4 linked regions of the Homo sapiens genome follow. The protein of the gene in region 2 purifies or fractionates together with the protein of the main gene of each other region. This does not show direct contact. Each region holds a gene or a part of one and is shown on either strand. Other genes may lie near its edges. The genes, in order: SLC7A3, SLC2A5, ATP2B2 and LMBRD2.

Region 1 (7,536 bases), on a different chromosome or scaffold from region 2:
AATAAATAAATTTAACATGCTAGCATAAATTCAGTCACAAATGGAAAAATAGAAAATCTAGAAATATATGCTAGTATATTTAAGAATTTAATACATGATAAAGTACATATCATCAAAGTCGAAGAATGAGTAATGAATTGTGTTAGACTGACTGATTTGTATTTTGGCAAAAATTCAAGTTACATATGTATATATATTTCACATTTTGTATATCAAAGGAAATTCAAAATATATTAAGAGTTATGTAGAAAAAATGGGATATCATCTAGGAAAGTGTGGTCATTTCTAAACTTTTAATTTCTTTTTCTTTTTTGAGACAGGGTCTTGCTTTGTTGATGGAGTGCAGTGGAGTGATCTCAGTTTACTGCAGCCTTGACCTCCCAGGCTCAAGTGATTCTCTCATTTCAGCCTACCGAGTAGCTGGGACTGCAGGCACGCACCACCATGCCTGGCTAATTTTTGTATTTTTAGTAGGGACAGGGTTTCGCCATGTTGCCCAGGCTGGTCTCAAACTCCTGAGCTCAAGAGATCCACCCACCTTGGCCTTCCAAAGTGCTGGAATTACAGGCATAAGCCACCGTGCCTGGCCTCAACTTTTAATTAAAAGAAAATCAAATATATGGATAATTTGAGTAGTATAAGCAATACCCATATTGTTCACCTAGATTCACCACTTTTCAACATTTGTCACATTTGCTCTGTCTCTCTCCACACACATGCACACACACATTATTTTTGCCGAGCCATTTTCAAGTTTATTACACTTCATCCCTAAATATTTAGCACATATCTCCTAAGAACAAGGACATTCTTTCCTACATAACCTCAATATTGTTATCATGCACAAGAAATTAATATTGATACAGTATCATTAGCTAATATACAGGCCACATTCAAATTTCTGCTATAGTCCCAATCATCTCCTTTATAGATGTTTTTTTAGAATTCCAATCCAAGTTCCAGCTGGGGACCATGCACTTCATAGTGTCATGACTCTCAGTCTCCTTTAGTTCCTTTAGAACAGTCCCCCTACCTAAAAAAAAAAAATCTTTCTTTTTCTTTTCTGGTTTTTTTGAGACAGAGTTTTGCTGTTGTTGCCCAGGCTGGAGTGCAATGGCATGATCTCGGCTCACCTGCAACCTCCGCCTCCCAGGTTCAAGCGATTCTCCTGCCTCAGCCTCCCGAGTAGCTGGGATTACAGGCAAGCGTCATCACACCCGGCTAATTTTTGTATTTTTAGTAGAGATGGGGTTTCTCCATGTTGGTCAGGCTGGTCTCGAACTCCTGACCTCAGGTGATCCACACGCCTTAGCCTCCCAAAGTGCTGGGATTACAAGTGTGAGCCACCGTGCCTGGCAAAAAATCTTTCAAGACATTTGCAGAACTCTAGCTAGTTGTCTTTTGTCATATAGAATGTCTTACAATCTGGATTTTTCTGGTTACATCCTCACAACTAGTTTCAGGGTTAAACGTTTTTGGCAAAAATATGTCATGGATGATATGTACTTCTCATTGCATCACATCTGCTGGCATATAATGTCAGTTTGCCCCATTATTTGTGGTGCTAAACTTGATCACTTAGCTAAGGTGTTTTCCACCAGATTTCTCCATTATAAAGTTACTGTTGTAGGAAGAATATTGGCCCCCGTGACTTTTTCCCTTGGTGCTTGTTAGAGCAGTGAATATGTTTCACTGTATGGAAAATGGGCTTTTGCAGAGGTAATTAAAGTTACCAACTGGCCAGTGCAGTGGCTCACACCTGTAATCTCAGCACTTTGGGAGGCTGAGGAGGGCAGATCACTTAAGGTCAGGAGTTCGAAGCCAGCCTGGCCAACATGGTGAAACTCTGTCTCTACTAAAAGTACAAAAATTAGCTGGGCATGGTGGCGCATGCCTGTAGTCCCAGCTGCTCGGGAGGCTGAGGCAGGCGGATCGCTTGAACCTGGGAGGCAGAGATTGCAGTGAGCCAAGATCGCACCACTGCACCAGCCTGGGCGATAGAGTGAGACTCTGTCTCAAAAACAAAACAAAACAAACAAAAAACACAAAACAAAAAACCCTAATACAGGACCTTTCCCTTTATAATTAAACTATAATCTGTTGGGTGGTATTTTGAGGTCATGTGAATATTTTGCTTCCCAACACCCAGGATCATCTATTGATTATCCTTGCCTGAATCAGTTATTACTTTGGTGAGTGCAAAATGGTGGTTTTCTTTCTTTTTTTCCCTCAACTGAATTACATTTTATTTATTCATTTTATTTTTGGCTTTATTGAAGTATAGTTGTAAATAAAAATTGTATATTTTTAAAAGTGTACAACATGATGTTTTTATATATGTATAATATAGTGAAATGATTATCATAATGAGGCTAATTAACATATCCCTCACCTCACATAATTACTATTTTTTGATGTGATAAGAACATTTATGCTCTATTCTCAGCAAATTTCAAGTATATACATGAATATACAATACTATTAACTGTATCAAGCATAATACAGTGTTATAACTATAATGACCATGCTGCACGTTAGATCCCCAGAACTTAGTCATCTTGCATAACTGAAACTCTACATCCTTTGACCAACATCTAGGCAAATTTACAGAGGCAAAAAAATTGATTTGTGGTTGCCTAGGGATACGGTGAGGGGATTGGGAGAAAATGGGGAGTGTCTGGGAATGGGTACAGGGTTTCTTTTTGGAATGATGAAATGTTCTAAAACTGATTGTAGTGATGGATACACAACTCTGTGACTGTATACTAAATCCTATTGAATTGTACTCTTTAAAAGACTGGATTTCATGGCATTTGGATTTTATCTCTGTGATAAATAATCAATCTCATAATCCAATCAATCACCTAATCTAAGCAACCAGATCATATACACTAATATATCGTTCCAAATATGTATCAAGTTTTTCTTGAGTACTTTCCATGTGCCAGGCAGGAAGACTTGACTTCATAATCTCATCTAAGCATCACAACAACCTTGTGAAATATGTATATTATGTCCAGAAACTGAGGCTCAGGGATGTTAGGTAATCCACAGTGGCTGAGCTGTGAGTTTAACCTAGGTGCAATTCCAAACACAGCACTCCTAACGTCTATGTAATAAGGTTTCAGTTGTATAGTGTGTGTTTTCTTTCCCTAGTTAGATTAGGACTAGGAGGGCAAGGATTTTATTTTATGTTTCCTTCATAGTCTCTTCATTGCTGTACCAGCTACTACACATAGTGCTCAATAAATGCTCAATAAATACTTAATGAATGCCAAATGGAGCTGCAGCTGGTTGAAAATACCAATTCTTTCAGAACGGATTTAGATTTTAGATTCATGGGTAATATATTCATCATGGATCATTAAAAGAAGCAAGGATATTTGAGTCCATCCTTAGTCCCCAAGATGTCTTGGTGGAGCAGGGACCACACTTTCACAACCTTTGGTGCTTTCTTATGAGTAAGAATTGATTGGGTCAGATGGATTATGGATCTGACCCAATGTGATCATTCGTAGATTCTTCGGGTCCTTTTCTGTTTCCTAGTATCTCCTAGCCTAAACGGACCTACCCTGCTGCTGATGCCTCTCCCTGTTTGTCTTTCCTTGTGGCCACATCCCTCTTCTTGTTCATTTGAATAAGATATGGTGCCTACGGGAGGCAGGCATTGAAGTCCAACAGGCCAGGTTTTATCAAAGGTGGTCAACAATAATTATGGTGTGGTGTCAAACAAGTCATGCCTCTGAGCCTCAGCTTACACATCAATAAAATGGAACTAAACAAGCTTCCTCCTCCAAGATGTTGGTATTGTCAGAATTTCACATTTAATAGTTTAATATTTATAGGCAGCTGGAGACACATTATAGAGAGATTGGGGCCTATAAATCAATTTAGACTGGATTAATTATCTGTATACAGGTGGCTTGAAATCATCTTCCATTCTCCTGCTGCCTGCATTAGAAACACCCACAGCTGAGCGTGAGAGCTGAAGGGTCAGGGTCAGATGTGTAGACAAGAAAGCTAAGGAAGAAAGACTGAGAGTGAGGTGGAGACTCCCCTGCTGTGTTCCGCTTCACTCCTGACACACACACACACACACACACACACACACACACACACACGCACCCAACTCCCCCCCATCACACCCCACCTACCTTCCCCATTCCTGCCCAGAATCACTGGTCCTAACAGGGCACAGAGGTGGAAAATCTCATGGGTTCTTTGGCCAGGAAGCCTCTTATTGTCCTGTTCTGACGACCAGCGAGACAAATGGGAAAAGACTGCCCTCCCCCTTTTCTCGCTCCCCGGCACGCCAGGCTTGCTAGTGAGGATGGGACGCAGTCTCAGGCCCCACGCAATCCTTTTGCAAAGCCAAGAAGTGTGTGTGTTGTGTGTGTGTGTGTGTGTGTGTGTGTGTGTGTGTGTGTGTATTGTGTGTAGCGAGGAGGATTGGGGGTGGGATCCCATGACGTTACCGGCTCCGCCTCCTGGTGTATATAAGGGGCGCTTGGCGCGCAACGACCCCAAGCCGCAGCTTTGAAGCCTGAGCGGCCGAACTCGGCAGCTCCAACCCAACTCGGCTTAACTCCGCCTCACCGAGCCCAGTCCAAGACTCTGTGCTCCCTAGGTTTGCAACAGCTCTCTGGTAAGCGTTGGGGACCCACACGTGTGTCGGAGGGGGGACGGCGAGGGTCCGGGCGTACCTAGGATTCTCTGGCAACCATGGCATGCAGTTGCATCAACGGGGCCGTGACCTGTTGCTGGCGAGACCCCCGCCCCGGGAGTTAGGGCTCCCGTCTCCACCCCAGCTCCAAACCATTTCTAGATGGGGGCAGGAAAATCTGGGACCTGAGTCGGGGGGCATCGGGTGGAACCCTTCCTCTCTGCTGAGAGGAGAGTGCGAGCAATCTCGGGCTGCCCTGGGGCCCCTCTGGGGGCGCATCTCCAAATCTTTAGATGTCGAAGCCCCGCCTCGCTGTTGATGCTTGCAGGTCAGCCTAGCAGGGCTTGGGAGGAAGTAGGGGAACATTTGCTTACTCCCCTGGGCGACAGCTGCGCTAGTTGAGCAGTGTGGGCTTGGTGAGGAGGGATGGAATTGAGTCGGTGCTCACTTTTAATCTGCAGCGAGGTTGGTCCCCTCTCCCTCTGGGGGGTCTGGGGGCTGTGTCTGTTTGAAGCCCCGGGGGAAGCCCCTGGGTGGAGCTCTGTTTAATTCCCAAATAGCCACAGGCCAAGGAACTGACACATTAGGTTTCAAGATTCCTGGGTTGAGATTAGGATAAACCCTATCAGTTTCTGGCAAGAGAAAGAGACCTAATATTGATTGAGCACTTACTAGGCGCCAGCCACTCTACTTCAGGGGGCTTTCACGTGCCATTTCTGAAATTAGCCCTTCCAAAAACCTTGTAAGGTATTGTAATTCCTACTTGTTTATGAAGAAACTGAGGTTAGAGGTAAAGTGACTTGCCTTTGTCCCTTCCATATCCCCGTCCTCATTTCCCAATAGCTCCTTTGCTTGGTGGAGGGGGTCTTGTAATTCGCTTTCAGAGTTTAGGGATAATGAGCCCTGTCGAGGGGTTTTTGTCTTGTTTTTCACCAGATCATCTTCTTCAATTCCTGCTAGGATGCCGTGGCAAGCATTTCGCAGATTTGGTCAAAAGCTGGTACGCAGACGTACACTGGAGTCAGGCATGGCTGAGACTCGCCTTGCCAGATGCCTAAGCACCCTGGATTTAGTGGCCCTGGGTGTGGGCAGCACATTGGGTGCAGGCGTGTATGTCCTAGCTGGCGAGGTGGCCAAAGATAAAGCAGGGCCATCCATTGTGATCTGCTTTTTGGTGGCTGCCCTGTCTTCTGTGTTGGCTGGGCTGTGCTATGCGGAGTTTGGTGCCCGGGTTCCCCGTTCTGGTTCGGCATATCTCTACAGCTATGTCACTGTGGGTGAACTCTGGGCCTTCACCACTGGCTGGAACCTCATCCTCTCCTATGTCATTGGTGAGATATGGTGGGGGAGGGAGGGAACTGCACAGCCAGCAAAGGGGTTTTTGGTCAGGAAATCTGGGTGGAAGTATTCTTTATATTATTCACAGGACCTCAATCTCCCTAAATGTGCGGGTTTGCTGGGGGTCTGGGGGGGGGTGTTGAAGGTGTGGAGAAATTGCTCATTCTATCCATCTCCGTCCTGGTTTCCTTAATTAAGTGAATGGTTTTGGTTCTTAAAAAGTAATAATAGGCCAGGTGCAGTGGCTCACGCCTATAATCCCAACACTTTGGGAAGCCGAGGCAGACAGATCACCTGAGGTCAGGAGTTCAAGACCAGCCTGGCCAACCTGGTGAAACCCTGTCTCTACTAAAAATACAAAAGTTAGCCGCGCAGGGTGGCTTACACCTGTAGTCCCAACTACTCAGGAGGTTGAGGCAGGAGAATCTCTTGAACCTAGGAGGCAGAGGTTGCAGGGAGAGGAGATTGTGCCACTGCACTCCATCCTGGGTGACAGAGTGAGACTTGGTCTCAAAACAAAACAAAAGTAAGAATAGGTGAAAAAGGCAGGGACTTGTGTGAGCCTGGGGTCTGGGAAGAAGGGAACTTGGCCACATGTTTCTCTCTCTGCTACACCAGGTACAGCCAGTGTGGCCCGGGCCTGGAGCTCTGCTTTTGACAACCTGATTGGGAACCACATCTCTAAGACTCTGCAGGGGTCCATTGCACTGCACGTGCCCCATGTCCTTGCAGAATATCCAGATTTCTTTGCTTTGGGCCTCGTGTTGCTGCTCACTGGTGAGGCAAAGAGCAGGGTATAATGGTGGGGGTTGGGCCAGGAGGGGCTAGTCCTTGGGGCCAGGGATAAGGATGGGGGATGGGCCTGAGAAAGGCTTAAGGGAGGTGATAATGGTGGGGAAGAAGAAAAGCTGGGAAGGAACCTAGAGGCAGGGAAACAAAGCTTGGACTGAAGACTTTCTGGGAGTCCTGAATGCATTTCTCCCACAGGATTGTTGGCTCTCGGGGCTAGTGAGTCGGCCCTGGTTACCAAAGTGTTCACAGGCGTGAACCTTTTGGTTCTTGGGTTCGTCATGATCTCTGGCTTCGTTAAGGGGGACGTGCACAACTGGAAGCTCACAGAAGAGGACTACGAATTGGCCATGGCTGAACTCAATGACACCTATAGGTTAGATGGTCACTCTTAGGAGCTGCAGAGCTGGGAAAATGAAGGGGAAGAAGGGGATCTGCTGAAGGATTCTGGATGGGGATGGGAAAAAATGGGAGGCTGGGCTTTGAAGACCTAGCTAACTGGTTTGGCATTAGAGAAAAGATACAGAGTTGGCTGAACACACCCTTACCTTCTCCAACCCTTCTTCCACTCTAGCTTGGGTCCTCTGGGCTCTGGAGGATTTGTGCCTTTCGGCTTCGAGGGAATTCTCCGTGGAGCAGCGACCTGTTTCTATGCATTTGTTGGTTTCGACTGTATTGCTACCACTGGTAACACAGTCATTCCATTCTGTTTGGGGCTTGGGCACAGTGTGTGCCCAGGCTGTATG
Region 2 (7,024 bases):
CAGTGCCACCTCGATGAGCCACTGGGAAATCAGCTGAACGTGGGCTATGAGCTGGCAGGACACACGGTCCCCAGATGTCTGGCCAGTTGTATTTGCTAAAACAGCTCATTGTGACCCCTTTTATTTTAAGGCAGGTGGAGGCGCAGGATGGGAGGGGCACTGGTCTTCCTGGTGCAGCTCCGGGCTCCTGGGACCCTGGCCTGTCCTCACCTGCAGTGCCAGAGCTGCAGTGAGCACGCAGCAGGCTATGAGGCAGATGGAGAAGCCCAGCAGCAGCAGCAGCCTCCGACCCAGGAGCTCCACCACGAACACCTACAGGAGGGTGGCAGGGCTCAGGCGGGAGAGGCCCAGCTTCACCTCCCTCCAGCCCCCTCCAATGGGGCAGCTGTGAGGAGAGCTGGGCGGACCGGGTGCCCACCCATGTGCACGCACACTCACATTCACATGTGCAAGACATGCCCTTGGGCAGCCAGCGGGAAGTCGGCTGTGGCTGTGATGCGGGACCCCAGCTGCCCACCCTTGAGACTCAGCTCTAGGGCCTCCTAATCCCACAACCCTGAGCCTCAGGATTCCTGCCCTCGGGAGGCCAGATGTCTGCATGCACCGGAGACGCTGCCCCCACGGAGCCTGCTCCCATCCCGAGGTGGCCGAGCCTCACTCCGGGTAGCCCGGGCTCGGAGCCACCCAGCAGTGGGCGCTGCCTGGTCCAGGCACGCCTACATCCCGGTCAGGTGGTGGCCCCGGGCCCGGTGCGGCTCGGCAGCCCCAAGTGTGAGGGGCTGGTGCGGGGCCACCTCCCACACAGAGTTTCTGTAGTAGCGGCTGGTCCTCCACGTTTTGGGGCCACGGGCTGCCCTTTTGGCGGCGCCGAGGCTGGGGCGTGGGGCCCGAGGGGCCTTGGGTGGAGGCTGTGGGCAGCTCCCAGGACACTCACGGCGCAGAAGGTCATGACCACGTTCACGGCCCCGGTGCCGGCCGTCACGTACTGCACGTGCTCCTCCGGCACGCCGGCGCTCAGGTAGATCTGGTCCGCGTAGTAGTAGATCTGCAAGGCAAGCGCGGGGCTGGGCGGCTGCCCGGAGGAGGCGGCCTCGGCGCCAGGACCCACGCCCGGCGCCCCAGGACCTGCGCCCCGCGCCCCCCGAGCCCTCCCCAGCTCCCGAGCCGCAGCCCGGCCCATACAGCGTTGACGCCCGACAGCTGCTGGCCGCCCATGAGGACGATGATGGACAGCAGCTGCCAGCGCAGCGAGCGCATCCGGAACAGCTTCAGCACGGAGATGAAGCCCGCGGCCTTCTCTGCCTCATCCTCCTGCCGGATCTCGGCCACCTCCCTGTCCACAGAGTCCCAGCCGCGCAGCGTCTGTAGGGCTGGGGAGAAGCGGCACCGTCGGACCAGGGCTGGGGAGCAGAACCTGGAGGCCGCCCCCGCCAGAGCCCTCGTTACCTTTCTTGGCGGCCGCTTCGTCTTTCTTCTGAATCAGCAGGTACCTGGGGCTCTCGGGGAAGAAGGGCAGCAGAAGGAGCTGCAGCGCCGCGGGGACCCCGGTCAGCCCCAGCAGGATCGGCCAGCCTGGGAGGAAGGCAGCGAGCTGGCACCAGCGGCCTCCCCACCACCCCGAAGGCGCCCTCTGCAGAGCCGGCCCCAGCCCCGTCATCCTGAGTGGGGTGCAGGCTCCAGGAGGGCACAGCTTTCCCAGCCCTAAGAACAGCAACTCCCGACGGTGGACACTCGGGAAACACCTGCAGCAGGGATCAGCAGCGACGCACCCCTGCGCCCATCAGACAGACCACACCGACGAGGCCGGTAATACCATGTGCTGGTGAGAACGTCCCCGTGTCCTTCAGAGGACAGTCTTGCAGGGGCTGGAGGAGCTGGGCATACCCGGCCTGACCCAACTGCCCACTCCCAGCTCTATGCCCAGAGAAGCCAGGCCACCAGGATGCCTGAACTGGAATGGTCACGGCAGCTCTGATTACAGAAAGGACACCAGAAACAGTGGGAATATCGTTAACATTCCACATAGAGGGGACACATGGGCTGGCTGCATTGGTACTGCAAAGGCAAAACTAGAGGCAAAGCAAAAAAATGAAGCACAGAGCTTCACAAATGCCTAGAGGGCCGTGTGTGGTTCTGAGTCCTGCTATGGAGCTCCCTGAGACAGGAACCTGGCTTATTCACTTCTGGTCCCAGCTCCTAATGAGAACGCGGCGCCTTGGCGTAAGTGTCCCCAACACATGCAGGAGTGAAGGAGAGGCAGGAGCATGTGGTACTTAAACAGGGACCTAGGTCTGTGCCGCTGGGTCTGCATCCTCATGAGACCTTGGACCAGTCTTCCAATCTCTCTGTACCTGTGATGCACCTGCAAAATGGGTATGATACTGGTACAGGCTTAATAGGGCTGTTCTGAGGAATACATGAGTTACTAAAAAAGACTTGGCACTTGGCTCACGGTAAGCACTTTCTACAGAGAGTGTCTAAGCAGCACAGAGCTTGATGATCCACTTGACTGACTTGCAGACGGTGTGTAGAACCCTGGCGGGAACTGGCTTATGTTTTGGCTGACGGGATGACTGATGATAGTTTAAAGGGAAAGTCGTGCAAAAACAACCCCGGTTACAGGTGTCTGTGCACCTGCCGCATGCCAGGCCCCAGGCTGTCTTGGGGAAGGTGGAGGCAGGGTCTGGGATGTCCTCACCACCTCCCCCATGGGGCCAGGCCACCCTCACTCCTGGTACTTCTCTTTCTGGTCTGCAAAATGGGATAATCACTGAGTCCCAGGCAGCAGCGTTGCTGGGAGGGTCCTATGAACTGATGCTGGGTCCGCCCCAAGCACAGAGCCTGGCACACTGGTGGCTGTCATTGCTATGCCACGGGCCTCCATATGGACAGCTGCTGAGCAGGCAGGGAAGCCCATCACTCAAAGCCACCTCATCCATCTCCTAAGAGGGACTAGATAGTAAACGCTGGCCAGTCCCTTATCGCGCCTTTGTCCATGGCCTGCTATGTTGGCTCGGGACAGGATGGGCCCCCCAAGGACATCCAGCCTGTTAGAAGAGACCAGTCTGCAGAAAGTCCTGTCCTGTGGTGGTGGCTTTGGAACACAAGGAGGGGGCCAAGGGTAGTGGTGAAGGGGTGGGGGTGCTCCCGAGATGTCCTGAACTCACCATCTACGTTTGCAAGGAGATTCCGAAGACCAAAGATCTGGGCCACAAGGATGCCAACAGTGATGAAGAGCTGGGGCACCACCCCGAGAGCCCCCCGCAGGTTTTTAGGGGCCAGCTCCCCTAAGTACATGGGGACCACGTTGGAAGATACACCTGGGAGGAGGTGAAATAGAAACACCATCAGAAAAAATTAGTCTGGCAGGGACAAGCTGTCTTCAAGTATACTATTCTTAGCAATAACATTATTTGGGCCAGAACTCTCTCAAAACTGCAAAGGAGAAAGCAAACACCTCTTTTAATTCTTAGCCCTTTATACTTTAAGGAAAGAGAAACAGATCAAAGGAGCTCATGCACAGGGGCCCTTGCTTTGGCCCATATCATCTGGGGACACTGGCCAGCTGGATCTACGGCCTTCCCGCTCCCTGGCCTGAGTCTAGACCCACTCACGTTTCTGCTTTTTGAGGAGGGTCTGTTTCATAAAAGGCAAGGCAGCTGGGTGTGATGGCTCGTGCCTGTAATTTCAGCACTTGGGGAGGCTAAGTGGGGAGGATAGATTACTTGGGGTCAGGAGTTTGAGACCAGCCTGGGCAACATAGTGGAACCGTTTCCACTAAAAATATGTATATGTGTGTGTGTGTGTGCGCGCGCATGATATATATGGCCTGTGTGTATTTACATATGGTGTGTATGTCTGTGTGTGTATGGCCTCTGTGTGTGTGTGTGTATGTGTATATGGACATGGCCTGGTGTGTGTGTGTGTGTGTATATATATATGGCATGTGTGTGTACATATATATATATATGGCCTCTGTGTGTGTGTGTGTGTGTATGTGTATATATATGTGTGTGTGTGGGTGTGTGTGTGGCCTGGGTGTGTGTGTGTGTGTGTATAGGGCATGTGTATGTGTATGTATATATATGGCATGTGTGTATGTGTGTGTATGTGTGTATGGCCCAGGACCCCTAGCCCCCAGCTTTACCTTATAGGAACAGTAAATAAACCAATGCAGAGATAGTTTCATACACCTTTAAGAACAAGTTATATGTCTCTATAAGCATTTAAAATGTCAACACATATTACGGAATATCTGCATTTCTGGGATTTCTGTAATGCCTGGACTACTTCTGAATCCCCAGTATTTAAACTTGTAAATATTCCCATCATACTTGAATCTGGTGGAGGGAAAACTTACTCTATTTTATAGAATGACGTGTTGCCTGATGTCAATTAAAAAAACATAGGCAGAATTTAATTTTGCAGCTTCCAAAGTATTTTCACATATATTGCCCTATTTAATTCTCCTAAAAGCACATCCAGAGGCTGGGGATGGAGAGGAAGTTTCACTAGTCCAAGTATCAGGTACCAAATCCTGAGTCAAATGGAGGCTCAGGGACGTGGGTCTCTGAAGGGAGGCTCTCAGGAACAGAGTTTGGAGTGAGCAGAGGTTGGAGCTGCTGTTGATGGCGGGGTATTTGATAGAACTGAGATAGGAGGGTACCTGAGGCCATGTTTTCCTGTTTGGCAATTCTACCCACAGATGTCTCTGCTCAGTATTTGAAAAGAGACATCACAGTTCATTAATATCGATTCTTCCTCATTTGCAGAGCAAAGAGGGGCAGTCTTTAAAGCAGCTCTTAGCATGTCTAGGTGGGAAGAGGGAGCAACACCTCACAGGCCCAGGGCAAAGGGCTGCAGAGGAAAGGAAGGCCTCCTGGGAGCTGAAGTGGGAGGCTGTGTCCTCACCACTTAACAAGAGCCACTTAGCAGCAAGAGCATCTTGGTGAAGGATATTAATAAAGGGTCAAACCTCAGGAGGTTTGTGAAGAGATGGGGTTACCTGTACGTTGGTGGAAAGCAATCTCTATTTTTGTCTTTAAAATGACTCCACTAGGACCTCCCAGCCAGCCAGTTCTGATACGAGAATCAGAGCAAAGTGGCTTTTTTTTTTTTTCGAGATGCGAGTTTCGCTCTTGTCGCCCAGGCTGGAGTGCAGTGGTGCGATCTCAGCTCACTGCAACCTCTGCCTCCCAGGTTCAAGTGATTCTCCTGCCTCAGCCTCCTGAGTAGCTGGGATTACAGGCGCCCGCCACCACGCCTGGCTAATTTTTGTATTTTTAGTAGAGACGGGGTTTCACCATGTTGGCAAGGCTGGTCCTGAACTCCCGACCTCAGGTGATCCACCCGCCTCGGCCTCCCAAAGTGCTGGGATTACAGGCATGAGCCACCGTGCCTGGCCTGGCTTTTGAAGTTTAAATTCCTCCTGCTGGACACTGTAGCTCACCCCTGTAATCCCAGCATTTTGGGAGGCTGAGGCAGGTGGATCACTTGAGGCCAGGAGTTCGAGACCAGCCTAGCCAACATGGTGAAACCCCATCTCTATGAAAAATACAAAAAAATTAGCTGGGCACGGTGGCACATGCCTACAGTGCTAGCTACTCAGGAGGCTGAGGCACAAGAATTGCTTGAACTTAGCAGGTGGAGCTTGCAGTGAGCCGAGACCGTGCCACTGCACTCCAGCCTGGGCAACTAAGCAAGAGTCCATCTCAAACAAACAAACAAACAAACAAAAAGTTTAAATTCCTCTGAGCCAATGAATACCTTCAGTCTTCCTGCCAAGAAGTTGATTAGTAACAAATCAGTGAACTGTGAGCATGTTCCAGTAAAAGTCATACTCATCTTGGCACCCCCCTTGTCAAGGTAGTTGTTTACTTCATTTTAGAGTGAGCAATGTGGTTCTTGTTCATATGGGTGGTTTTATTTTTGTGTTGGTTTGTTTGTTTTGTTTTTGAGACAGAGTTTCACTCTGTTGCCCAGGCTGGAGTACAGTGGCACGATCTCGGCTCACTGCAACCTCCCCATCCTGGGTTCAAGCGATTCTCATGCCTCAGCCTCCCTAGTAGCTGGGATTACAGACCTACTCCACCATGCCCAGCTAATTTTTGTATTTTTAGTAGAGACCGAGTTTCACCATGTTGGCCAGGCTGGTCTCGCACTCCTGACCTCAAGTGATCCAACTGCCTCAGCTTCCTAAAGTGCTGGTATTACAGGCATGAGCCACTGCACCCGGCCATATGCGTGGTTTTAAAATGAGTGTCTAAGCAGCACACAGCTTGATGATCCACTTTGCTGACTTGCTGGAGGTATGTGAAAAACTGTTGGCAAATGGATTATGCCCCTAATGGCCAGTGTTCTCAAGCCGTGATCTGAGGACCCAGGGATCCCGAGACCTTTTAAGGGTGTCTGTGAGATCAAAACTATTTTCATAATAATCCAGAGATGATATCTGCTCTTCATTCTCTCTCTCTCATGAGCATATGGGAGTTTTCCAGAGACTTCTTGCCAGGCCACATCACAACTGACCTGACCCAGAAGTACATCTGAGAATTCAGCTGTCTTCTATTAAGCCAGACATTAAAGAGATTTGCAAAAATGTCAAACAAGGCCACTCTTCATGTAATAGGCTTATTTTAAAAAATGAATTAATATGTCTCTCGGTTGCCATTTCTAATACAGTAAATATTGATCAATGTAACCCACATGAGCAAAAGCTCTTTGGAGCCCTCAATAATTTTAAGTGTGTAAAGGGGTCTGAGACCAAAAACTGAGAACTGCTGACTTTAGAGTAAAGGCTGGGATTTTTAACTGATTTGTTATCTATTGGAGCCTAATATTTCTCTGCTGGAAACAATTCTGTATTGTTAATGGTCAATAGAAAAGTGATTGGACCTGCTTACTGGTGGCAACTTTTAGGAATGTATTTTTCAAAATGTTGAGCCCACTGCAGAGAAAACCCACAGGTCAGGGCAAGATGGCAGAGACCGGCCGGGCATGGTGGCTCACGCCTGTAATCCCAGCA
Region 3 (7,024 bases), on a different chromosome or scaffold from region 2:
GCCTGTAATCCCAGCACTTTGGGAGGCCGAGGCGGGTGGATCACTTGAGGTCAGGAATTCGAGACCAGCATGGCCAACATGGAGAAACCCCATCTCTACTAAAAATACAAAAATTAGCCGGGCGTGATGGTGCGCACCTGTAATCCCAGCTACTTGAGAGGCTAAAGCAGGAGAATCACTTGAACCCAGGAGGCGGGTGTTGCAGTGAGCTGAGATCACGCCACTGTCCTCCAGCCTGGGCAACAACGAGACTCCATCTCAAAAACAAAACAAAACAAAACAAAAAGGATACAGGACTGCATCAGACACCCTATCAGCAGCGTCTACACAGCAGTGCCCTGCCATGTGACAGCTCAGGTGTTAGAATGAAGCCACATGGGAGGGTCCAGAGCCAGCCTAGCCCAGAAGTCCTGGGCTCCATATAGGAATTGGCATCTCTAGTAACAGCCCCATGAGCTTGTAGAGGTCTCAGCAAGGGACATGCTCAGGAACAAGAAGCAGCACTCTCGGGGCAGCGCAAAACCTCCCGCAGGTATCCTGTCCTCGCAGTCCAGAATGAGTTTTCCAGTCTGAGGTCACTTTTTAGAAGCCATGTCGCCCACCTTTAACACAGCCGGCCGTCCACCTTTATCGGGTTTCCACAGAAAAAGTGGAAGACAGTTGCCCAAGGCCTTTCTTCCCCAGAGGAGAAAGGGCTTTGCTGACCCTTCAGTCCTAGTCTCTGACCAGCTGACAGCACAGCCCTGGCCCCCCACTGTCCAAGCATGCCTTGATGTCTTGGGGATTCACGTCACTGCTCAGAAGAGGCCCCCACGAAAGGCCAGGCATCTCCCCTCTGATTCCCCCACCACTGCCTTCAGCCCAGCCCCACTCTCTCACTTGGCAGGCGAGAAGATGTTCCAGATCGACAGCGGGAGGAACGCGCCCCTGCATTCGCCACCCTCAGAACATTACACCATCATCTTCAACACCTTCGTCATGATGCAGCTCTTCAACGAGATCAACGCCCGCAAGATCCACGGCGAGCGCAATGTCTTTGACGGCATCTTCCGGAACCCCATCTTCTGCACCATCGTGCTGGGCACCTTTGCCATCCAGGTAGTGAGGCCCCCACCCTAACCAGGCCCGGGGTGGGCAGCAAGCGGCTGGAGCCCCTGGGCAGGACCCTGAGAGCCCAGCCCTCTGTGCTGGTCCCTGATGGCCTCTCTCTCTCTCTTTCTCTGCTCCCCTGTGACCTCCAGATAGTGATCGTGCAGTTTGGAGGGAAGCCATTCAGCTGCTCTCCACTGCAGCTGGACCAGTGGATGTGGTGCATATTCATTGGGTTAGGAGAGCTCGTTTGGGGCCAGGTAAGTTCCTGGTAGGTCGCAGGAGGTGCCTGTTAGCAGGGCAAGGGAGACAGCACTGGATGGAGAATCCAGGACCCCCAGGAATGGGCTGCCAGACCCCAGGCAAGCTCCTCCCTATCTCTGGACATCTGAGCAAGGGGGTTTGTCCCAGGTCCTATACTGGTCGTCTGGGTACTACTGCTCTGATTTTTGCCTTATATCTATCTACCACTGCTCCTGTTGTTTATGTAATATTTTCTCTCAATCACGTCAGCTTTTTTAACTTAAATTTGTTTTTAAAGGCAACGTCCTGTTACTAAGACAACTGAAAAATCAGTATCACTTGTCATAAATGGAAGCTAACAAAAACATTAATGTAATGAGAATGACATTATTAAACTCCAGCTAGAAGCCATGGCCTGCCAGGGATTCAAGGCTGGAGCAGCTTGTTAGGAAGGGAGATGAATCAGTGGTCTGCGGGCGCTGGTGGCCGGCTGGCGTCAATCAGGATCCTTTAGAGCACTCAGAGGGAACGCAAGCAGGACACACTCTGCCACATTGCGGTGTTACTCAGTGCTGTGCCTGTGGCCATCTGTGGCCTCAGTGCTGTGCCTGCCCCAGCTCTGGGGCTCCTTGGGCTGGATGCTCTTTAGGGGCCCTTCCAGCTTTGTCCCAGAATATTCTCCCACCAATTCGTTTTTCTACGTTTGCCCAAGTTCCAGACCCTGTCACAGCTCTGAGAGCATGCAGCCCAAAGGCTCCTGACCCAGGACACAGGGCTTGGGAGGAGGGCCCAGAACCAACTCAGGGCCTAAGGGGCCTGATTCCCAAGGTGCTCACACATCCAGGCAGTGGGACCCCATGGGTGGGAGGCATTTTTCTTGCCTTCAAGCTGTCTGCAGGCTAGAGTGAGAAGCTACGGGGGCAAAAATTAACTAAAAGATAAATAAGAAAGTTTAGTTTCATCCAAAAGGACTTCCTGTAACCTTTGGGGCTGCTTTGGAGAGTGATAAACCCCTGGGCACCCTGGGGGCCAGGCCATCTTTATCCCACTGGGGCCCACCCCCTACAGGAGGCTCTTGGGGGCTGGGCCCAGTAACTGAGGGAAGGATTCAGAGGACAAAGGTTAATGCCAGCGGGCAGTGCTGACTTTACACTCCCAGGGAGCCCCCTGAGGCTGCATTCATGCCAGCGCCTGACTGCTCCTACAGGAAATGGAAGGGGCCTCTGATATCTGCCACCGCAGCTTTCCTGTAGGGCCTGCGTCTGGGTCCTCAGCCCCATGGACAAGCCTTTTGGGGAAGATTAGGAATGAAGGCATAGCTCTTTCCCATTCTGCCTTCCCAGTCCAGGATTGGCTGCCTTCAGGGTCCAGTGACCTCAGGAGGAATAAGGGACAGAGGAATAAGTAACCCCAGGAGAACCGAGGGCCAGCCACGGGCCAGGCTCATGCAGGACGAGTTAGACCCTCCACCGTGCCCAGTTCTCACCATGCCCAGAGCGGCCCCCACTTTACAGCTAGGAAAACCAAAGCTCGGTGAGGTTAAATGACTTGCCCGAGGCCACAGGACCAGGGTTGTCTGGGGTATTCAAAGCCACATCTGTCCAACTCCTAGAGGCCAAGATTGTCCACTATGTACCCTGACTCTGAATGAATGAATTAAAAAGCAAATTGCACTCCAGCCTGGGCAACAAGAGTGAAACTCCATCTCAAAAAAAAAAAAAAAAAAAAAAAAGACATTGTCAAAGACTGGGCTGAGGAACAGGTGAGGTGGGTGAAGGAGTAGATTGATCACATGCCTGGGTGAGCGGGTAGGAGGAGGGAGGTAGAGGAGCGGGTGTCAGGGAGAGAAGGCCACTGGGAAGGACAGCCCCACCGTCCTGACAGACAGGGTCCCTTGCAGGTCATCGCCACCATCCCGACCAGCAGACTCAAGTTCCTCAAGGAGGCAGGCAGGCTCACACAGAAGGAGGAGATCCCGGAGGAGGAGCTCAACGAGGACGTGGAGGAGATCGACCACGCGGAGCGGGAGCTGCGGCGGGGCCAGATCCTGTGGTTCCGAGGCCTGAATCGGATCCAGACACAGGTACAGGAGGCTCTTGGGGGCTGGGCCCAGGCCTGGCCGGGGCGGGCCAGGGGATGGAGGTGAGTGTGCTTGTGCTGCCCCCCAGGGCCCAGCTCTGGTGCTGAGGGAGGGTGGCTACAGAGGGGTCCCGGCCAGCTCTCACCAGCCACTTGCACACCCACTCCTGTGGCTGCTAAGGAACAGCACGGCCTCCTCAGAGAGGTCCCATTGTGCCCTCTCAGGGCAGCACGGGGAAGTGGTAGGGGTCACACCCACCATGGTCTCCAGGGGGATTTCCCTGAGAGGGTGGGGAAGGGTGGCTCTGAGGGCAGAGGTGAGTGAGGGGACTGTCGCTCAGGGCTGGGGGCACCCACCCACAGGGGCCGTGTGAGGCTGGACAGAAGCTGCAGGCCAGGTCGCCCAGGGTCCCCCAGGGCGTGGTGGTCAGGGGGTCCGCCGCCTCCACGGGGGCTTCAGTTGCTCTCCCCAGCTTCCCCTAGGGGGTGGAGAGGCTCTGGGGAGCAAAGGTCAGTCATCCTCAAGCACACACAGACACACATGCACACACCAAGCACACCAGGGGAGCACAGGTGCAGGGCGTAGCCAGCCAGAAGCAGGTTTCTTCCCCAGAGCAGAGAGAGCATGGCTGCCACGTGGCACACGACACACCTGCGCGCCTCCCCCGACCCCCCCACACACATACCACATGCTCTCACATGGTCCCCTTATGCCTGGAGCAGGTGTTGTAGCTCACAAGTGCTGTCACAGCCCTGCGAGGGGAGGGTCAGAAGGGACTCTGTGGGTCTCTTGCCCAGACCATCTGGGGAGCTGGAGTGGGAGCTCCTCCATGCCCCAGCATGCTTGGGCGAAGTGCAGTGTAGAAGCAGCCACCTGGCCACCATCCTGCCAGCTGTGGCCCAGCACCTCATTTCCATCCGATGTAGCAGAGAGCTCACCTGGGTCACCTCCCACCCCTCTGTACCCTGTCCCAAACCTCACCTCATGTGACCTTCACAGCCCTGGGAGGTAGATGTGACTCCCCCAGTTTTAGAGGTTACCAAGGTCCAGGAGATGGCCCCTTCTACTGAGCTGGCACAGCTGGGGTGGGGACTGGAAGCCGGTTTCAGACCCGGAGGTGCCTGACACGGGCCTGGGCTCACCCTCCCTGGTTAGGGCCCCGCAGCCACCCCTCCCAGCCTGCCCCCACCTCCTGGGAGGTCCAGGACAACTCAGTGAATATGTCCCTGGTGCTGTCACTGCCCTGGCGGCAAAGCCACGCAGGGGTCTCCAGATTACGGGAGGAAGCAAGGACTGCGATTTCTTGAGTGGGCAGGGGCGCCTGTCTTGCCTGCCTCTTGCGGAATGCTAACACGGGTCAGGTGCTTTGCCACTTACAGATAACCCTGCCAGGCAGGTGGCATTGACCCTTCTTAAGAACAAGAAACTCGACTCAGAGAGGTGGCTTGCCCAAGGTCAGCTAGCTAGTAAGTGACAGAGCTGGAATTTAGGCCAAGCTCTGTCCACCTCAGGACCCCCACCACACCCTCTACCTCCACGCCTGTACCTGAGGGAGGCTGAACACTGCTCTCTTCCCTCCAGATACCATGTTTAATCACTGCCTCCCCCACTGGCCAGCCCACTGGCCCCTGAGCCACTAGCACAGGACAAAGGCCGGACCCCCTGTGTCCTCCCGGGGACCCTGGGGCCTGCAGGTGGGCCCAGAGCTGAGCAGACGTTTTTCAGAGCCTTGGAGTGTGTCTGGTATTTTTGTTTTGATTTAAGTGACATTGTCGTTGTTGCCGTGGCTGCGGCTGTTCTTGTGACGTTGCCCTGTCAGTCATGTAGCCGTTGTGCTCGTTCTTCTCGCAACTTGTCTCGTTCTCTCCTCCGTTGCAGATTGAAGTAGTCAATACTTTCAAGAGCGGGGCCTCCTTTCAGGGGGCCCTGCGGAGACAGTCCTCGGTCACCAGCCAGAGCCAGGATGTAGCCAATCTCTCTAGCCCTAGTCGCGTGTCGTTGTCCAATGCTCTTTCCTCTCCGACCAGCCTTCCTCCTGCTGCAGCCGGGCGTGAGTGTGACTCCTTACTGCCTCCGGCTGGCACTGCCCACGCCAGCTCCCAGGCGGGCAGGGGCTGGGGCACCAGAGGACATGGGGGGCAGCCGGTCACAATCAGGCCCAGGGGGATGAAGGGTCCCAGCCACCGAAGAGGGTCCCGTTGGTCAGGAGAGCGTAGCCAGTCATGCGGTGGCAGTCACTCAGTGGACCAGGGTCAGTCAGAGGGTCATTAGGGTCCCAAGTGGCCAAAAAGTCTGGTTCAGTCAAGGGGTCACCCTTGGTCAAGAGGACATCAGTGACCAAATGGTCCCAACCCACCACAGGGTCCCGGCAGCCAGAGGGGGACAGACATGGAGGGGACACAGAGTGTCCCACTGGCCTAGGGTCATATGTGGTCAGGAAAAGCCTGGACCACCAAGGCAAGGGTTGGAGTTGGACAAGAGGTCCCAGTCTTGCAGTCAAAGTCAGCAGAAGGGTCACTGTGGGTCAAGGGGAGCAAGCCCCTTAGGGTCCCAGTCAGTCACATTGGGATCCACCCAGGAGAGGGTCACGTCAACCAGACTTTCCCAGTTGGTCAGGGGGCACCCACAGTAATGAGGGTCATGGTCAAGGGGGACAGTTGAGCCAAGAGGTCACTGCAGGTCAGAGGTCATAGTCAGCCAGGGATCCCCAGGCCACCTAGGAGCTCACAGCCTAGACGCTGCACCCCAGCAGTTCAGAGTCTCTGCCCGCTTCCTGTCACTCCTCCCCTTGCACTTTTGACTGCATCAGCTGCCCTGCAGACACCTTTCCCTGTGGCTGAGCTTGGAACTTGCTGAAGTTCTAAGCCCTTCCTGGAAAGGACAAGGTCCCTGGCCCATTCAGCTTGACCCCTGGTAGAAAATGGTGGGTCGAGCCTCACATCTTGCCTGGGTGCCAGCAGGCCCAGAGGGACCTGATATGCCCTTCAGCATCCTGCCCTCCTTTATCTGAGAGATAGCCTGGGACTGTGGCCCCTCCTTCATCTCCCTCCTGCCAAGCTCATCTCCTCATGCCACCACTTCTGATCTAGATCACTCATTGCTGGCTTTGTCTAGCTCTTTCCCGGACCCATGGCTTCGGGCCCCATAGGGAACAAGTCTGTCTTTCCTCCCATCGCCCTGCTATGTTTCCAGTCAGGCGCTTCTGATCTGCAGGGGAGCCCCTGGTTCTGGTCTTCTCCAATTGGCATAGTGTCAGTCTTAGCCTCCAGCTTCTTTGATGAGAAGTAGACTCCAGCTCACCCCTTGAAACTTTATAAAGGGCCTCTACCCCCATCCAAAACCAGAACACCCACAACACAACCCCTGCAGCCAAGCAGGTAACCCGGTGTGCTGGTGGGAGCGCCTCCCTCAGTGCCTCCAGTAGGAGGCGCGGGCCACAGGGAGCCTGTTGATGGCAAATGTCCACGACCCATAGCGGCAGGACAGAAGCAGAAAGCAGGGAAGGAGCCTCTCAGTGCTCATTCGTCAGCACAGAAACGCAGTGCTGGGGAGGACCGGGGAGCCAAGATGAAATGGAGATGCATTTCAGCAGATGGTGGCTGAGTCACATTT
Region 4 (7,024 bases), on a different chromosome or scaffold from region 2:
TGGCTTGGTACAGAAGGAATCAGAGGCGAGGACATGTTCCTGCTGCAGTGGGAAGTAAGACAGAGCAGGACTACGGCCTGCCCTACTGGAGGAAATTGCTCCTAGGGCCTTGTCTCCAGGAGTTGGGAAAGGGGAAAGAAAACATTGCCCAGTCTTCCAAGTCTCTGGGCAAAAAGTCACTGAGTTGGAAAGAAGTACCTCATACAGATGGGAATTCATATTTTAGAAGGCCTTCTGTAACCTTCTTATATTGTTTCAACGCTCCTAAGAAAAGTTTTGATGATGTATGTTATTAATTCCTTTTCATAAAAAGATGTCTCAAGAATCTAAATAAATCTTAAATTTTGGGGGGGAAATCTATTTTTATGTAAAAATATTACACTGAAAACAATTTATTTACTGATGTGTCCTCTTTAGTGACCTAAAAGATACACTGAGCCAGCATACTTTACATTTGTATTCAGATGTTGCTTAGTTGTCTAGCAAAATCTGTTTGACTACTTTAGGTACAATATTGCTATTTCAAGTAGTGGGATTTGTAGTCAGAACTAGTTCCTTCTGAGCGTACCACTCATCAAAAACAACTCTGTACACAAAACAGAAGGAAAATCTTTCAGCACATTAAAAGTCATGCTATAAACATAGGCCTCAGAAAGGAAGAAAGGTATAAAGGAATGAGAGAGGACATAAGAAAAGAAAGACAAAACCCTAAATCCACTTACTTCTTAACATTTAGAATTCAATACAATCCATTACATTTGATGATTCAAGTACGCTAAGATTTTTCAGGGACATATTTTGTCGCTTAGTGCAAATATACTTGTAATTTTTAGGCATAATCCACTCAAATCACAAGTAAGAAACTCACCTTACTAAACAGGTGAATTATAATATGGAGAGTTTATTTTTTCTCTAATATGGTAATCAGCACACCAGCAAGAACATTCCCTAAACCTATTAATAAGAATGAGGTTTGTAACTGAATGTAAATTAAATTGCTCCATTAATATGCTAAAATATACTTTTAAAAAACCACACACATTGACTTTCCTATGCTAATTTAATTTGGGCATACATGCAGCTTAAATTTCAGAACTGATCATCTAATCAAATAGTAGTCCAAAAAAATCAACTGGCAGAATGTTTTTTTGAATGTCTGGATTGTCAAATTTTCTGATCTATTCTTTATAAAGGGAAAACCCTTGAATCTTTTGATTTAGTTCTTACCATTTCTGTGAAATGAGGGCCTCTTATGCAATGAGATTATTCAAAAGCCCTTGTATTCATTTGGTAAGAGAGCAAATTTTAATAATTAAACTTATTCTTTCTTTTGTTTTTTACAAAAATGCTCTATTGATAACAAGTTATTTATGTTGTAAAAGAAGTTAATTAGTAATTTAGAGGTGATTCATTAAATTAATAGATTATTATTATTTTCTACAATAGTTATTCTGAATTACTGGCTTACTGAATATTCTTACCTAACAACTATTTAAAGAATAATTTGGAAAATTTTAAACTAATACTTATTATCAAGTAATAAAGTCATCAAAAATTACCAGAAATAATTCTTTAAGAAATGTACTTTGCATGTAAAGTATATGTATTTAGTAGTCCTATTTTGCAGTAGATGTCATTATATTTCAATAAGCTTCTCAAAAGAGAAAACTTCTACCCATTACAGTTTTTTACACAGGGTGGCTTGACAAATATTAACTTGGTTCCCCAGCAATAAACTGAGTCTTCCAGGGTCAAGTCATTGCCTTCTGAACTCAAATTTATCCAACAAAATAACATTTTTATATGATTGTATATAACATTCTGTAAGACAAATTCTGCTTAAAGTTGAATATTCTGAATCACTGAAACAACCAAATATTTTAAATATAACTTGAAAGTCATAAAGGAATCTATACCGGTTGTGAAGTGTATGCACGTATACACTTCAATTATTATAACCATAAAAAATTTAATACTAAAGGAAAGTGGTAACATTACCTTACACGTTCCTACCAATTTATCTTAGGGCATTATAAAAGTTAGTTATAAAAGTAATTGGCTAATTTCTTTTCCTTTTCTGCTTCTGTTTCAACAACAGCATCTTAATTTCATGACAAAACCTGATGAGAAACATTATACTTAAGAAATTATTCCAAAGTAAACCCAAAGACTAAATAAAACAACACTACTTTCACAGGACTTTTGATGAATTAGTCCAAAAGCGTTTTTGCTTTAAGTACTTGTAAACTTTTCTGTAATAATAAGAAACTGGACCCATTTCTGGGATGATCATTTCCCCATCCAATACCTTCAAGTATCACTAGGAAAAATAGCACAGTTATAAACTCCAGTACATAAACACCAATTCAACTTCCTCACAATGGCTTTGTAAGGTAGATCAGCAGGTAAATAGCAAGTATCATCTTCATTCTGCAAATGAAAGTGCAGAATGAAGCACTTGAGGCACTGAAGAGCTACATGATTTGCCAAAGGTATTCAATTAGTCAATCATTAAATTACAAAGAGGATCAAATTATCTCTGCTCCTGGCTTATTGCTTTCTGGCCACACTTCACATGAAAAGACTGTATGTGTGTGTTCTTAAGTGTAGTCTATATGACCTTCAATTCAGAGTAAGTCTATCCACTGATAATTATTTTAAAAGGGATCTAATTGCAAAGATCATAAAAACTCAAAGATCAAAATTTTCAGATAATGAGGATGATGCTCTATTCCTTTCAATATCTGCATAGAGCTGTGTTTTAAAAAAAAACTTACATGATAATATTTATTAAAAATAAAAATAAAAATTTTAAATTTATGTCTTGGGGAAAGATTAACTTCAAGTTAGGGGAACCATATAATTCATCTTCAAACTGGGTGGGATACTTGAGGGTGAAAGTAATCACTAGTAATAAACAGGATACTAGGTGTTACACTGAGACTGTATTAGGCAAGCTGAAGTATGGTCACCAAATGTAGCATGGATTCAGTAAGAGTTGCAAATATTCTAGGGACATAAGAAAACTCTCTGCAAGCATGCTGCAATCAAACATGTTCACTTTTCAATAAAACACTAGTGCTTTAAAATATAATACATAAATTTATCTTAAACACAAAGGTTAAAAACAGTCTATTTAGTAAGAATGTTTAACCAACAAGTTATTACACATTTCCATTCTAATATAGTTTTGTTTTCTATAAACCACGATTTAAGTATCAGTAATAACAGTAAATGGATTCACTTTTTACCTTTGAATAACCAGTTTTTTTCTCAAAAAGTATAAGCAGGTACCTTTAAATACTGAAGGATTTTGTTGGACTCTTTGACTACTTAAAAAAAAACTATTTTTCATTAATGCCTAGGATTTATCCTTGAATATCATAATCAACATTTAAATCAATATGTTAAATGATAAATGTGAACATAGCTTTCTGAAATGAAAATCTTTTATAAAGCAATACCAGAAGCATAAAAAAATCCAGTTACTACAAAGACTGAAGGAATACTATATCACCTGATTATAGTACACATGCTAAATACACAGACACGCATCACTTGAAGTATAATCTTAATCTTATACATGCAAAAATCCCCCACGAGTTTGCAAACAGATTTGAAAAAGCACTTTTTACATTCAGTTATGTCTAGTAAGTAAGCCTTGTTTTAAGACACGAGTTTTATGAATACAGTTATTATTTGAGGTCTCCATTCACTTACATTTCTTTGGGAAATACAGGTTGAATATACTTTTTAGAAGTAACAAAAATGTAAGTCACAATAACAAAACTGTATATAATATTATTTAGTATGACTTATGGCTTCCTTGAATCTTTAAAATAACTCTCTTGAAAAAAAATTAATCTGAAACAAACTGAACTGCATGTTCTTAACATATGTTGATCTTTCTTAAAGTCCTTCCACTGTAACTGTATTTCTAAGGCAGATGCTTAGGAAATGATATGTAATAAATCTTGTTGAAAAAGGTGATACTCTATTCAATGCACATTAAACTATTATTCCTAAGATATAATTAATTCTCAGTGCCTTTTTTGTTATCTTGACACTTTTCACTGTGTATAGAGGAAATTCTAGGGTACACAGATGTTCATCAAGACTGAACTGATGTGTTGACCTTGGTTAGTGGTCCCACAAACTTTTTCAGACTTTAAACATCATTAAATATGTCACTGCGAGACATCGAGAGATATCGTCCACCAGGCTGATACCTAAAAAGGGAACATAAAGAAATGATCTGAGGCATCAAAAATAATAAAGGAAGAGAGGAAAACAAGAATACATTAAAAGGGAGTGGCCATATAATTTGTAAGTACTGTAAAATCTAGTCAGTAGCTGAAAGCAGAAACTTACCCTCCAAGTATATTATCCAAAAGGACTTAATTATAAATCAACCAGCAACGGTTTTAGACCCTAGAATATATGCATGACAGAGTGAGAGATGTAAAAAGAAGGGGGCAGGGGATGTAAGACACATCTGGGAGATTAATCAATTCAATAACCACTCTCAATTGTTGCAAATAAATATAACCTAGGTTTTTACTGCATATAGGCAATACTATAGTAAACATTTTCGTGCACATGATATTTTGCTTTTATTTAATTATGTGCTTATAGCATAATGGCTAAAAGTACAGACTCTGTAGCCAGAATACTGGACTTTGAATGCCTGACTTGCCATTTACAAGTTGTGTGACTCTGGGCACTTTACTGAGCCTCTCTGGATTTAAATCCAGCTGAATTTGCAACCATACAATTACAATATTTTTGCTAAAGGACTTAGAATAGTGTCTGGCATCTAGACACTGCTATGCAGCAGTTACTAAATATAATAAATTTCACAAATGGGACAATCAGAAATAGGCATATAAATATTGTTGTGATCCTTTGCTATATATTTCAATTATTCTTTCTTATTTATAATACCACTAGTATTGTATGAAGATAACAATTTTAGTTACCATTACTGGATGATATAAAAGCATTAGAAAGTCTAAAAAGGTATCAAAAGTTACTTAATATATTTTTTATTGTTAGTGAAAATGAACATTTTCCTTTACTTATCACTTGTTTACTTTCACCTTTACTTACTTATTTTCAATCTTGTCAAGTCAATGTGTTATTAAAAGTGTAGAGGAATGCTAGAGCTAAAATGTCACAGCCAGAACTTACCTTCCTGATTCAGATTCAAGAGGATCATCAGTGAATGTTTCTGCATTAAAATCCAAAGGTTCTGCATCTTGGAGAAGTTCTATCCGGTCCCTTTCAGTCCTGTTATTAGCCCTGGTATATTTGAATGCAGCTGCAAAGGAAGGGGGAAAAATGTCTACTTCCCTACTGTCTTTTAACTTATGGGTCACAGTCTATGGAGGTACAGAAAGAAAAATCAAAATTCCAAGGAATCTGAAGACAAAGAACATAAGAAAAGATAACTACATGGTTCCTTAAAATCAGATTAAAATTATAAGCAGTATAATAGAATATAGCAAGGAAAAGTTCTCTAGGCTTGTAGTTAGCTAAGAAGCTCTCTAAGCTCAGAAGCAGACACAGTGCAAACATTTCATTAGTGTAACTCAGAATTAACATTTAACTATGGTATCACAATGGTGAAACTGTTTATTAACAAAAGTAGTTTGAGTTGGTTTTACAGTAAACCTCATTTCTTGGCTAGGACTTTAATGTGTAATCAGCTCAAACTCTTAAAAAAAGGTGTGTCTTTTTACCATAAGGCAAGAGTATGGGTAGCACTAGCCAACATCGGCACTAGCCGATATTTAATTAGAAATTTTCTAGTAGCTATATTAAAAAGTAAAAAGAAACAAGTGAAATTAATTTTAATATATTTAAACACAATATATCCAAAATATTACCATTTCAACATGTTGCAAGTGCTCAATAGCCACGTGTGGCTAATGATTATCATACCAGACAGCAGATAAAGAAAACTAACTCTCCCTTCTCTATGTGGATAGGGATTTCTATATAAACAAACCAAATTTTCACAATGTTGTTCAGAGGAGTCCAAGTAGATTTACAACAGCTTTATGCTATAGTTCTTTCTGAAAACTTAATGCAAGCCAATTCTATCATATTTACATTTTTGTAAGCTTGGACTCTGTCCCAAATGCAAATCTCTTCATCTTTTCTCTCACTCATTCAGCAAATCGCAATTGCCCAATACATGCTAGATTCTCTCTAATTCATCATCCTATGACTTTGTGACTCCTCTTCTTTTAAGCACTCTCCCGTCTTGCCAGGTCTTTCTATTCTGTAAACTTCTTCCACTCTATGGTAAGCAAGCATCCAAATCCCTTTACAGAATCCTATTTCCTAGTTTTAACTAAGCCTTTAGCCCTTTCCTATTTATTATACCCTAAAGTCCTTCAAATAAATCCTTTTCTCTTCATCTCCAGGACAACTGCCTTATTTTAGACCATAATCATTTCTTGACTGTATTACCAAACAGTCTCTGAAATGGTTTCTAGTCTCACTTCCCCAAGAATTATGCTTTATACTGCCATCAAATTCATCTTTCTAAACCAAAAATCTTATCATGCTTCTTCCCAGATTGAAATCTTACCTTTAGGTCAAAATCCCAACTTTTTTTTCTTTCGTTTTTTTTTTTTTTTTTTTTGATGGAGTCTTGCTCTGTTGCCCAGGCTGGAGTGCAGTGACATGATCTCGGCTCACTACAACCTCCTCCTCCTGAGTTCAAGTAATTCTCCCATTTCAGCCTCCTGAGTAGCTGGGATTACAGGTGCATACCACCATGCCCAGCTACTTTTTGTATTTTTAGTAGAGATGGCGTTTCACCATGTTGGCCAGGCTGGTCTCGAACTCCTAACCTTAGGTGATCCACCCACCTCAGCTTCACAGGCATAAGCCACCGCGCCTGGCCCCAAATCCAAACATTGGAGAATGACAATATCTGTTCCCCAACTACTCTGTGGCCTCCTCTCTTATTAGCCTCCCCATGCTTAGGCTTTAGTTAGAGAAAAACATGCAT

What was found.
Region 1: the proteins of SLC2A5 (region 2) and SLC7A3 purify together in Homo sapiens (affinity purification with mass spectrometry; 2 studies listed by BioGRID and IntAct, with this or other methods). This does not show direct contact.
Region 3: the proteins of SLC2A5 (region 2) and ATP2B2 purify together in Homo sapiens (affinity purification with mass spectrometry; 2 studies listed by BioGRID and IntAct, with this or other methods). This does not show direct contact.
Region 4: the proteins of SLC2A5 (region 2) and LMBRD2 purify together in Homo sapiens (affinity purification with mass spectrometry; 3 studies listed by BioGRID and IntAct, with this or other methods). This does not show direct contact.

Annotation. Positions count from the first base shown.
Region 1 is NC_000023.11:70,928,086-70,935,621, reverse strand, and holds the start of SLC7A3 (cationic amino acid transporter 3), read left to right. Parts: upstream 1-4,525; 5' UTR 4,526-4,645; exon of another isoform or gene 4,646-5,599; 5' UTR 5,600-5,624; coding exon 5,625-5,994; intron 5,995-6,619; coding exon 6,620-6,778; intron 6,779-6,988; coding exon 6,989-7,166; intron 7,167-7,364; coding exon 7,365-7,477; intron 7,478-7,536. UniProt on the Homo sapiens protein: Uniporter that mediates the uptake of cationic L-amino acids such as L-arginine, L-lysine and L-ornithine. The transport is sodium ions- and pH-independent, moderately trans-stimulated and is mediated by passive diffusion.
Region 2 is NC_000001.11:9,038,618-9,045,641, forward strand, and holds part of SLC2A5 (solute carrier family 2, facilitated glucose transporter member 5), read right to left. Parts: intron 3,321-7,024; coding exon 3,168-3,320; coding exon of another isoform or gene 3,004-3,167; exon of another isoform or gene 1,573-3,003; coding exon 1,447-1,572; intron 1,371-1,446; coding exon 1,183-1,370; intron 1,046-1,182; coding exon 935-1,045; intron 313-934; coding exon 211-312; intron 1-210. UniProt on the Homo sapiens protein: Functions as a fructose transporter that has only low activity with other monosaccharides. Can mediate the uptake of 2-deoxyglucose, but with low efficiency. Essential for fructose uptake in the small intestine.
Region 3 is NC_000003.12:10,334,567-10,341,590, reverse strand, and holds part of ATP2B2 (plasma membrane calcium-transporting ATPase 2), read left to right. Parts: intron 1-886; coding exon 887-1,098; intron 1,099-1,241; coding exon 1,242-1,349; intron 1,350-3,232; coding exon 3,233-3,415; intron 3,416-5,290; coding exon of another isoform or gene 5,291-5,462; intron 5,463-7,024. UniProt on the Homo sapiens protein: ATP-driven Ca(2+) ion pump involved in the maintenance of basal intracellular Ca(2+) levels in specialized cells of cerebellar circuit and vestibular and cochlear systems.
Region 4 is NC_000005.10:36,099,878-36,106,901, forward strand, and holds part of LMBRD2 (G-protein coupled receptor-associated protein LMBRD2), read right to left. Parts: intron 5,321-7,024; coding exon 5,191-5,320; intron 4,230-5,190; coding exon 4,169-4,229; 3' UTR 1-4,168. UniProt on the Homo sapiens protein: Recruited to ligand-activated beta-2 adrenergic receptor/ADRB2, it negatively regulates the adrenergic receptor signaling pathway. May also regulate other G-protein coupled receptors including type-1 angiotensin II receptor/AGTR1.